Regions from separate parts of the Homo sapiens genome. Here region 1 is linked to region 2. Evidence: fine-mapped expression QTL. A gene starts in region 2. The other region holds a variant in brackets. All regions are shown on one strand. Distances are from middle to middle. Region 1 overlaps LINC02389 (long intergenic non-protein coding RNA 2389). Region 2 holds the start of LINC02389 (long intergenic non-protein coding RNA 2389).

Evidence for each region. PIP is the estimated chance that this variant, and not a neighbour inherited with it, causes the effect. A credible set is the group of variants that fine-mapping cannot tell apart.
Region 1: its variant is the best candidate, but not a certain one, in a credible set for the expression of LINC02389 in prefrontal cortex (ROSMAP, PIP 0.74).

What each region holds. Positions count from the first base shown.
Region 1 is chr12:64,947,942-64,953,326 of GRCh38, forward strand. The region is part of intron 2 of LINC02389 (long intergenic non-protein coding RNA 2389); the gene reads left to right. All of the region lies in intron 3 of LINC02231 (long intergenic non-protein coding RNA 2231), which reads right to left. Among named protein-coding and RNA genes, the nearest start is that of LINC02231, 42 kb to the right of the region's middle. The variant A/T (reference allele first, on the strand shown) is at 2,171.
Region 2 is chr12:64,880,464-64,885,848 of GRCh38, forward strand. LINC02389 (long intergenic non-protein coding RNA 2389) reads left to right here and starts at 3,311. Exons shown (of 3, transcript NR_033988.1): 1 at 3,311-3,402. TBC1D30 (TBC1 domain family member 30) reads left to right here. Exons shown (of 12, transcript NM_015279.2): 12 at 1-570.

The sequences.
Region 1 (5,385 bases), 67 kb after region 2:
GAAGAGGTCTTGTGTGTGTGTGTGTGTGTGTGTGTGTGTGTGTGTCTTTGTTGTTGATGGTGAATTTTTTGTCATGGTAACCATTACCTTCTGAGCTATGGACCTCTGTCCCAAGATCCTGGAGCCGTAAATTGTTGAGGTGTCCTGTTGAGACACACGAGACCTGCAGATAGGCCTGGGATTTCAGGAAGCAGTCTGCGACCAAAGGTATCCTTCAGCATCCTTCTCAATGGCCTCTTTTCCTATGTTCATTCATTCCTGCACCCAGCTTGGCCTTCTATCATCTTGCTGTCCTGAAGCCCCTGGCTGTGTAGTCTAAGCTCCCACTCCAGGAGGTTTTCTCACAGGGCCCAACCCCACACAGCACAGCGGCCTTGTCCTGCCCCCCGGCATGCTAGTGTGTGACGTTCTCTTTATCTTTCTATATGAAGAGAAGTCCTATACTTGTTCATACCACTGTACATTTGGAATAGGCTGGAAGGACATTTCCTGGGCCTCTAATCACTTCTTCTGCCCACATTTCCTATACAACCTGGCTTGGCGTTTCTACTTCCAATCTGCTTGAGTCAGTGCCAGATTTGGGGCTTGATGCTGTGCATATGTCACCTGCTTCCTAGTCTCAGCTGCTTATGCCACACACACACACACACACACACACACACACACACACACACACACACACTCCCCTACATCCAAACTCTGGCTGTACTTAGAGCATCCTTCATTTAAGGGTATAAAAGTCGAGTATCGTGAGAGAAGGATGGGATGGGTTATTTTCTTTGGGTCAGTTACCTTTTGGTTTAATAAGCAATATCCAAGAGGCATGAAGATAATAGTCCCTGGTTGGAGAATCTCCTTTTTGTCACTCTTAATATTTCCCCTTTGAGTTGCCATTGGATACGTATACTCCATCAAGTCTGGAGTCCAACCTCACAGGCATGGGTTTGGAGCTAAGCTTCTGCTGACTGTCACATTGGGCAGGCAGTGGGGACCACAGAAGTTCCAGGTGAGCTGATGGGATTTAAAGAATAGTCTTGGAATTAGGGATGTGGAAAGTATCAGTATTTATCTTTGGTACAGGTGGCCTTCCTGTTCTGGAACCAAACATTTTCCCTCAAGAAACTCTTTTTCATTCTCAAGTCACATCAGCCATAGTCACACATGGGATCAATCCCCTACTGGTTTTTATTATTGTGACTGGGAATTGTGATCCAATCCACTCCACCAGCCCACTACCCGCTAGCCTTATTGGCCTATTGCAACCTACCCATGTGTGTGGCCAGGGAGGGCTACGCTCCTTCCCTCTGGTTTCTGTTTTCCCCATGGTTTCCATGTGGCTGCTGCTGCTGCTGCTGCTTCCTCTTGGCTCTGCCCCGGCTCCAGCCATCTTCCCTATCACTGGTGGTTGCTGCTTCTGCAGGGCTCTGATTCTAGGAGTTTCTCTTACAAGGCACAGCTCCACAAAGCAGAGTAGCCTTGTCCAGCCTCCCTGGCATGCTAATGTGTGACACTCTCTTTATCTTTCTATATGAAGGGAGGTCCTATACTTGTTCCTGCCACTGTACATTTGGAATAGGCTGGAAAGAAATTTCCTGGGCCTCTAACCACTTCTGCCCACATTTCCTATACAACCTTGGTTGGCGTTTCTATTTCCAGTCTGCTTGAGCCAGTGCTTGAGCTTGCTGCTCTGCATATATGTGACCTGCTTCCTAGTCTCATGCCTGCCTATATAGCACAAACACTGGAGGTATACAAACCTTCGAACCCCATCTATGCTGCCATGGCTCCAGAAAGCACCATGATCCTTCCAAGCTTGGCTAAGGGTTCTTTACAGATCAAAATGGAAGGACATTTTTTGCCTCCTTAAGTGACAGGGCTTTCCACCAACCTTCCAGTGGAAATATTCCTATGATAATTCAGTTTCATAACTAGCTTGCTAGAGTTCTAGAGAAGCACCCCAACTTATGAATAAGTTCAGGTTCAGGAAATGAGGCAAGATTGTTCAAGTGTTTGAGGCGTGAAGCTCTGATCATCAACCCCAAAGGTTTCCTTTTCCCCTCTCTCAGGGAGTCTGGAGCCCTCAGCAGTTGAAAACTTTCCTTCATGGTCTTCTTGAAAACTCTGAGTGCCCACACATAACACAAAACTCCCGTTAGCAGCATTTTCATTC[A/T]CAAGGAGACCTTTGGGGTCCATACAGATTTTTTTTTTTCAGGCTAGCCTAAAAATTGTATTTTTTGAAAAAGAAAAAAGACATTATCTGTAGCTTGAGAGGCAGAAATTGTTTCTTTTTAAAATGCTTTGTTGTACTTTCTAAGTTTTCTGCACTTTAAAAAAAATAAGATTCAAAGAACCCAGCACATATTTACTGTTAAACCTGAAAATATTTCTCAACCCCACTCACTTAAGAATCTATATAGTGGGAATCATGTTTTCTAATGCCCTTAATTGTCTTAAAAATTTATCTGTTGGTTGTCAGTTAAATAAACACCCAGATGTGCTATTTTATAGATCATACAACATATCAAATGTACCCCTTTTTATCCTCTGTATTCTGCATGGCTCCTTGGTCCCTGGCTTTCAGAGCTAAGCTTAAGTTCTTTGTCAAGGCAGGTTAACTATAGCAGACAGAGCTCTCATCTCCTCTCAGCTCAAAGGAGTAAGTGACTGTTGTGGTTCATCTATGGGAAACTGTGCTAGCAGAGCTTTACTTTCCTGGACCTGCCGCAGAATGAGATAGAAAGGGAAGGAGCTATAGCCACAGCATCTGGGAAGGCTGTAGTTCCTGCTGATGCTCTTGGCTCAGTCAATAGAAGAACAAACATGAGGATCAAAAGGATGCTCATAAGAGTCTTTGTGGAAGCTGTGGAGGGCAAAAAAAGAAGGGGATAAGATCTGAGTAGAAAGAGACTAAAAATGAATTCAAATTCATTAGCGTTGCTGGTGGAGACTGTTAATGATTCAAAGTATTTATTTGGATCAGAGAGTCACGGGACTGTTCAATTGAGTGTTTATTTAGAAAAATAGAGCTAGCAGACTCTCCAGAAAGTATAAATTGGGCTTTGGCAGGAAACCAGCTTCTTTTTGCCATCAGAATGTCATGCGAGCCTCAGGAATGGCAAACATCTGTTTGAAGGATATCCTGACCTTGAATCAGCAGAAAACTCAGAAGAAACTGCATCAGGATTTGATGTGTAGTTGTCATTTAAGACAGCAAGTGCAGTGGGCATCATTGTGGCCAAGTATTAACAATGGACCAACTATTCAATAAATATTTGCTGAATGTCTACTATGTGCCAGTTACTGCTATGTGCTGGGGATACAATAGCTACTAGGACATACCTATGGCCCAAATAATTTATTGCTTCACATAGACACTGGGATAAAAGTTCACAGTGTGTTGTCATGAATACACTGTACATTTACCGTGTTCTTTTCTTGTGCAAGTTAGAATTTGGTGGACAATTACAATGGATATAATATACATCAGTAAGAGAAGCTAAGCCTAGCTCACTATCTTGTACTGCCTAGTTAGCCATTTTTTTTTTATCTCTTGACCATTTACTCATTAAAATATTGGCAGGCCCACTGAGGGTGGTTGTGTTAAGATTAAAATTATGAAAATACCCTGAAATTCATGAGCATAAGTTTGCTTTTGCACATTATGCAATGTGAAAAATACTTAGTTTTCAAATTTTTAAAAACATTTCAGAATTGTAGCTTGTAGTCCTAACAACTTGGAAGGCTGAGATGGGAGGATCACTTGAGCCCTAGGAGTTCAAGACCAACCTGGGCAACATAGTGAGATCTTGTCTCAAAATAAATTTTTTTTTCCAGAATTGTAGATAAGAAATGATGGACTTAGAGTACTAGTGAAGAGTGTACAGTGTAATTCAAATAATTTATTGCTTCACATAGATACTGGAATAATAGTTCATAAAATGTGTTGCCATGAATATACTATACTTTTGCTGTGACTATATCATCAGATTTACCTAGAAAACAATAGATTTTTTCCTTACAAACAAATTTAATTGGAGGAAAATCACCACCACCTCTTACTGATCTTTTGCCATTCATGTTTGGGTTGTTTCCCATGTTTCAAGGCTGGTATTCCCTTGGGATTGCTCTGCTAGTCGACTTCTTGTGAACTGTAGTGTGAAATAGGAAACAGAATACCACCAGAGCCACACTAAAGCTTCTGAATTGGAGCCAGGAAGTATTTAATTTGATGCACTAAACAGCATAAAGCCAACATCCTGGCTCATGACCCCAGTGGTATCAGCATCAACAGCTGGATGAAAGCAGGGGTGGGGGGGATACAAAGATGGGTTGGTGAATACAACCCACTTGCCTTGAGTCTGCATTTGTGCATCCCAAACTTCTTCCTGGCTTTGTACTTTCTGTTCCCTCTATCTGGAACACACTTCCTTACGACTTTTGAAGAACCAGTTTCTTCTCATCATTTAAGCATCAGCTGTGATGACACCTCTGAGGGAGGCATTCCTTGACCACCCTATTTATTTATTTCAGATGGAGTCTCACTCTGTCACCTAGGCTGGAGTGCAGTGGCATGATCTTAGATCACTGCAACGTCTGCCTCCTGGGTTCAGGCGATTCTCCTGCCTCAGCCTCCTGAGTAGCTGGGATTACAGGTGCCCACCACCATGCCCAGCTAATTTTTGTATTTTTTTTTTTTAGTAGAGACAGGGTTTCACCATGTTGCCAAGGCTGGTCTTGAACTCCTGACCTCAAGTGATCTGTCCACCTTGGACTGCCAAAGTGCTGGGATTACAGGCGTGAGCCACCATGCCTGGCCAACCAACCTATTCAATGTTGTCTGCCTTCAGTCACTCTTTATAACATTACCTCATTTTTATTTTCTCCAAAGAACTTCTATACAATGATCTTGTCATTTGTTTGCTTATTTACTTGTTTATTATTTTTCTGCTTCACAGAGTAAAGACCTATCTGACTTGTCCATTGGATCCTTAGTCCCTAGAGCAGTACCTGGCACATTAAGGGGCCAAATAAATATTTGTTGGATACATGAATGACCCTTGTGATATCACTAGTTTCCCTATTTTATAATGGCTGAACCACTCTCATCCCAACATCTCAGTGATCCCTTTGTGACAAGTGTCCCAGAAGAAAAATATTGCAAATGTGGGAAACATGATGGGTCACAAAGTGTGGTAGAATATTACATCAGCTTCATAAACTGTGAATCATAAATCATGGTTCCATCTGTTCTGTGACAGAGTGAAAACAGCAAAATTTTCCACAAGATAGAAACTAAAAACAAAGACAAGTCACAAGTTTCAACTCATGGAGTACCTGTTACTATTATTTTGGATCGTTTCCCCTGTCCTCTATTCTTCAGCAACC
Region 2 (5,385 bases):
TCCTGGTTTGCAGATGGCTACCTTCTCACTGTGTCCTCACACAATGGAGAAAGGGAGTATGTTTTGGTCTCTTCCTCTTCTGATAAGGGCACTAACCTCATCATGAGGGTCCCATCCTCCTGGTGTCATCTAAACCTAATTACCTCCCAATGGCCCCGCCTTCAAATACCATCACGTTGAAGGTTGCTTCCTTCCTGGTCGTTTGCTCTGGTGAGACCAAATGACCTGCAAAGTGTCACTTGATTCCATTCTCTCCATCCCTTCCATCCCAGGCAATCTTTATCTAGCTACACCAACCTGTGCCCCAGGGGCTTCAAGAGTTGTTGTTGTTTTAACATTAAAAAACCAGAAAGTTCACTTGTTTCTTAGTGTTTACATCCTTGCTATAACAATTCTAGTTTTCCTTTAGGCAATGCTGATCACTGGGAAGGAGGTGGATCAATTCTCCTATGGGACCAACAGTTTTCTGGGAAGAAACTTCCTGATACCTCAGCCTAGGAATCTCCCTATCCCTGGAGAGTCCAGGAATCTATATTAAAACATGAAACAAAGCAAAAAATAAAAAAAAACCTCCTTAGTAATTGTTTTCTTTTTGAGACAGGGTCTCACTCTGTTGTCGAGGCTGGGGTGCAGTGGCACAATCTTGGCTCACTGCAGCCTCCGCCTCCCATGTTCAAGTGATTCTCCTGCCTCAGTCTCCCAAGTAGCTGGGACTACCAAGTGTGCACCACTATTCCCGGCTAATTTTTCTATTTTTAGTAGAGATGGGGTTTCATCATGTCCACCAGGCTGGTCTTGAACTCCTGGCCTCAAGCAATCCGCCCACCTTGGCCTCCCAAAGTGCTAGGATTACAGATGTGAGCCACTGTGCCTGGCCTTCCTTAGTAATTTGAACGTTGAACTAAGTTTAGCAACCACTGAACAAGTTAACTATAGCCATATATCACCTGATGACGGGGGTAACGATGGGGAAATTGTTAGGTAATTTCAACATTGTGCGAATATCACGGAGTGTGCTCACACAAACCTAGATGGTATAGCCTACTACACACCTGGGCTATATGGTGTAGCCTATTGCTCCTAGGCTACAAACCTGTATAGCAAGTTACTGTGCCGAACACTGCAGTCAGTTGTAACACAATGGTAATTGTGTATCTAAACATATTAGAAAAGGTACAGTAAAAATACAGTATTACAATCACACAGGACCACCATAGCACATGAGGTCCATCGTTGACTGAAACGTGGTGTGGCACATGACTGTATTGTAATGGTCTCCTAACTGGTCTCACTGCCATCCATTTTGGACCCTCCCCCTGCCCACCCCACCTCTCTGCTGCTTGGCTATACACTGCTGCCAGAATGATCTTTCTAAAATGAAAAACTAATTGGGCCATCCCTCTGGTCAAAATCTTTCTTCAATTTCTGGAGGGTAAAAGCTAAAATCCTTATCTTAGCATGATTTGACCCATGGTTAATTTTCCGTCTTATTTTCCCACAGCTTCCCCATTCATTACCTCGTGCAACCTATCCTCACCAGCACCATAATATCAACCATTGGTGGAGCTCCTTGAGCTCAGCACTATACTAGCTCCTTTGTGCTATCTCACTTATTCCTCCCAAGAGCTCTGTGAAGCTTACTGGCACTGTATTACAGATGATGAAGGTGAAGTGAGCAGTTACATCCTTGGCCAGTTGGAAGGAGGTGGATGAATTCCCCTATGTGATCAACAGTTTTCTGGGAGGAAACTTCCTGATACCTCAACCTAGGAATCTCTCTATCCCTGGAGAGTCCAGAAATCTATATTAAAATGTGAAACAAAGCAAAAAAACAAACAAACCTCCCTTAGTAATTTTTTTTTGTTTTTGAGACAGGGTCTTGCTCTGTCGCCCAGGCTGGAGTGCAGTAGCGCAATCTCAGCTCACTGCAACCTGCTCACTGCAACCTATTTAGCTGGCAAATAACATCTGGATCTATCTGACACCAGAGCCTGAGCTTTTCCTTTGCTACACTGTCTTATAACTTTGCCCATAACTCCAAGTTCCCTGAAGGCCCCCCACTCCGCTAATGCCCTCATACTGCTGTGTATTCATAAATCCTTGCTTCGAGCACCCTCCTTGCTTCAGTCTGCCTGGCAGATACCTACCTATCCTTTTGGTCTCATCGCACACATTAATGAGGTAAAATCCAATCTATGCCACTATATGATTTGGGGCAAGTTACTTAACATCTGAGACCTTCAATTTCCACATCTGTACAATGAGAATAATTTCAATCTCATAGGGTTTGTTGTGGACAATTGCCGTCTTTGCTGCCCAGAATTTACTATGCTTTGGCAACATTGCCTTAATTTTGCTTGGGGAGCCAGCCCTCCTCCACCTCTGCCCATGTACTTCCGGTGACAGTGATGGCCCTGGAGGGAGCACAGGGCCTGAGCTCAGACACTCAGCACTCTTCCTCCTCCTCACCATGGTGTCTGACCCATGGATGAGCCACAGGAAAAGAAGCTCAATTCCTAGGCTCTTGTTTTGAACTCTCACGTAAGCAGACTCACTCATTTCTACTGGATTTGGTCCTAAGTTGCTAAAGTTTGGGGAAAATTGGGTTACATATAGCTTATGTGATTAACTCCATAAATGAATATGCAACAGAATTTAACCTGGAAGGAAAAAGCCCAGGAGTTGTTGCTGGCAGCTCTCTTGTAACCATGAGGGGAGAGCTTGTTGGAGAAGAGTTAACACTCAGCAAGCAGAGCTGAGAAACAGAGAGAAAGCAGGCTGCTTTCAGGGCCTGTGAGCTCTGGATCAGGCCACGCCCAAAGCCAATTTGTCTCAGCTTATTTACTATATCAGCTAACATTCCAATTTTGGGGTTTAGCCAGTTTGGTCAGATTTTCTACCACTCATGTTGAAAAACTCTTAACTGAAACAGAGGTGTTGTGAAGATTACAGATTATAAGGGCAAAATGGTGGCTGTATCAGTGAACAGTAGTCAGGATTATTTTTTACTTTCCAGTGACTCAAACCTCTCCTAAACTGCTCTCTCAGTTTTGGCTCCGTCTTCCCATGATAATAATAGGTGGTGTAGAGAGGTGACAGAGTCAAGGAACATGGTTCTTGTTTTCTGAAGATGGTTCTTTCCTCAAGCCCTTTGAGTCTTCTTTGGTCTTATATTCTCATCACAGAAGGAGAGGTGATTGTCTTTCCCCAGTTTTGTCTACCATTCCGGTTCCATCTGCATTCCCGGAGGAGTCCTGTTGAGGGCAGAGTGACTGTGAGCAAAACAAGAAGAGCTGTGTCACCAAGTTCCATAAAATCTGGGAGCCCAAGCAGCATATTTGTGGGATTTGTCTGACAGAACGCAATGGAAACAGAGCGTGGCATTCGCTCCATCTCCCCCAGGTGAGCGGCAGCTTTCTCACGGGGGGTCGGGGGCGGGGGGGGGGGGGGGCTCTAGGGCATCTCTAATGGCGTCTGCGGGGAAGCAGCAGGGCTGGGTGAGAAAGTGGGTCTCACGGGACCTGCAGTGTTCAGCAGAGCCGTGGGAGTGCCTGCTGGGAGCATACTTGTTTGGGAACACATGAGAGGCACCCCCTGAAGATTTCAAGAAAACCGGATAGCATTAGGAGATATACCTAATATAAATGACGAGTTAATGGGTGCAGCACACCAACATGGCACATGTATACATATGTAACAAACCTGCACGTTGTGCACATGTACCCTAGAACTTAAAGTATAATAAAAAAAAATATATATATATACATATAAAAAGAAAACCTTGCCCAGTTAAGGGGATGGGAGGACTTTATAGGCCCTGTTTCAAAATATGTCTGTGAGAACGGTGTTGAGTCATTGTTGCTGCAGGGACCCTATCTGGACCAAGAAGTTGCTAAGGTCTGGGGAAGGTTGAGCTACATATAACGTATGTGATGAACTCCACAAATGTCTATGCAACAGAATTTAACAGATGGTGAAAAGTGTAAAGATTTTTGTTGCATGTATAGCTATGGAGCAGAATTTCTAGTACATTTGTCAAGTGTGAAACAAATTACAGAATCATGATATTATTTAATAAAAAGTGGTTATATCACAATAATAAACATTACTAATGGCAATCCTAGGCATCATGTAGCTCAATGATTTTCAAAGGTTTTTAAGGAGCAGAACATTATAAAATTATTGTTTAGACTTGTACTTTAAGTAGATAATATTTGCACAAGGTGAAAATTTAACATGTACGAAAAAGCACATAGGAAAACTAGGTCTCCCTCCACCCCTTGTCCCCTATCCACTCAAAGCTTCTACCCACAGGAAACCGATGTTACTCCTTTCTTTTGTATCCTTTCAGAGATGTTTTATGCATATTCAAGCACATTCTCACACACACACTTTCGTAAGCAGTAACACAATAACCTTCTGAACTTTCCTTTTTCACTATGTACCATGGAGATTGTTCCAGAACAGTGCAAGTAGAGCCACCTCGTTCTTTTTTACTGCTGCATAGATTTCCATTTCAGGTCTGTGCACAATACATTTATTCTCTAATCTATTATTAGATTATTTGTTTGCTTCCAATTTCATATCTATGGAATATGCATATCCTTGTACATATGATGTAATATTGCTAATAAGGAAGTTAGCTAAAGAATAAATTCTAAGACATGGAATTACTTGTCAACAATGCACATTTAAAATTTTGATACATGTTGCCAAATTGCTCTCCACAGATGTTCCATAAGTTTCTGCTTCCATCAGCAATGTAAGGAAGTGCCCAATTCCTCCTACCCCCACATTACTGAGAATCTTATCAAATTTTTTGATCTTTTCTGATTGGGTGAGTACTTAATGTATGTTTGAAAAATATGCATAAGGTTGACATATATTTAAAAGTTATTTATATGTCCTTTGTTCATAGGCTTTGCTCATTCTTGCTGTTTTTTTTCTTACTGGTTTTTTTTTTTTTTTTTTTGAGATGGAGTCTCACTCTGTTGCCCAGGCTGGAGTGCAGTGGTGCGATCTCGGCTCACTGCAAGCTCCGCCTCCCGGGTTCATGCCATTCTCCTGCCTCAGCCTCCCGTGTAGCTGGGACTACAGGTGCCCGCCACCACGCCTGGCTAATTTTTGTATTTTTTTTTTAGTAGAGATGGGGGTTTCACCATGTTAGCCAGGATGGTCTTGATCTCCTGACCTCGTGATCAGCCTGCCTCGGCCTCCCAGAGTGCTGGGATTAGAGGCATGAGCCACCACACCCAGCCTTTTTCTTACTGATTTGTGAGTTTTTTATGCGTTAAGAAAAACATCCTTGTCTGTAATCTGTGTCACAATATTTTTCTCATTTTGTCAATTATCTTTTGACTTTGTTCATGCTGATTTACTGACATG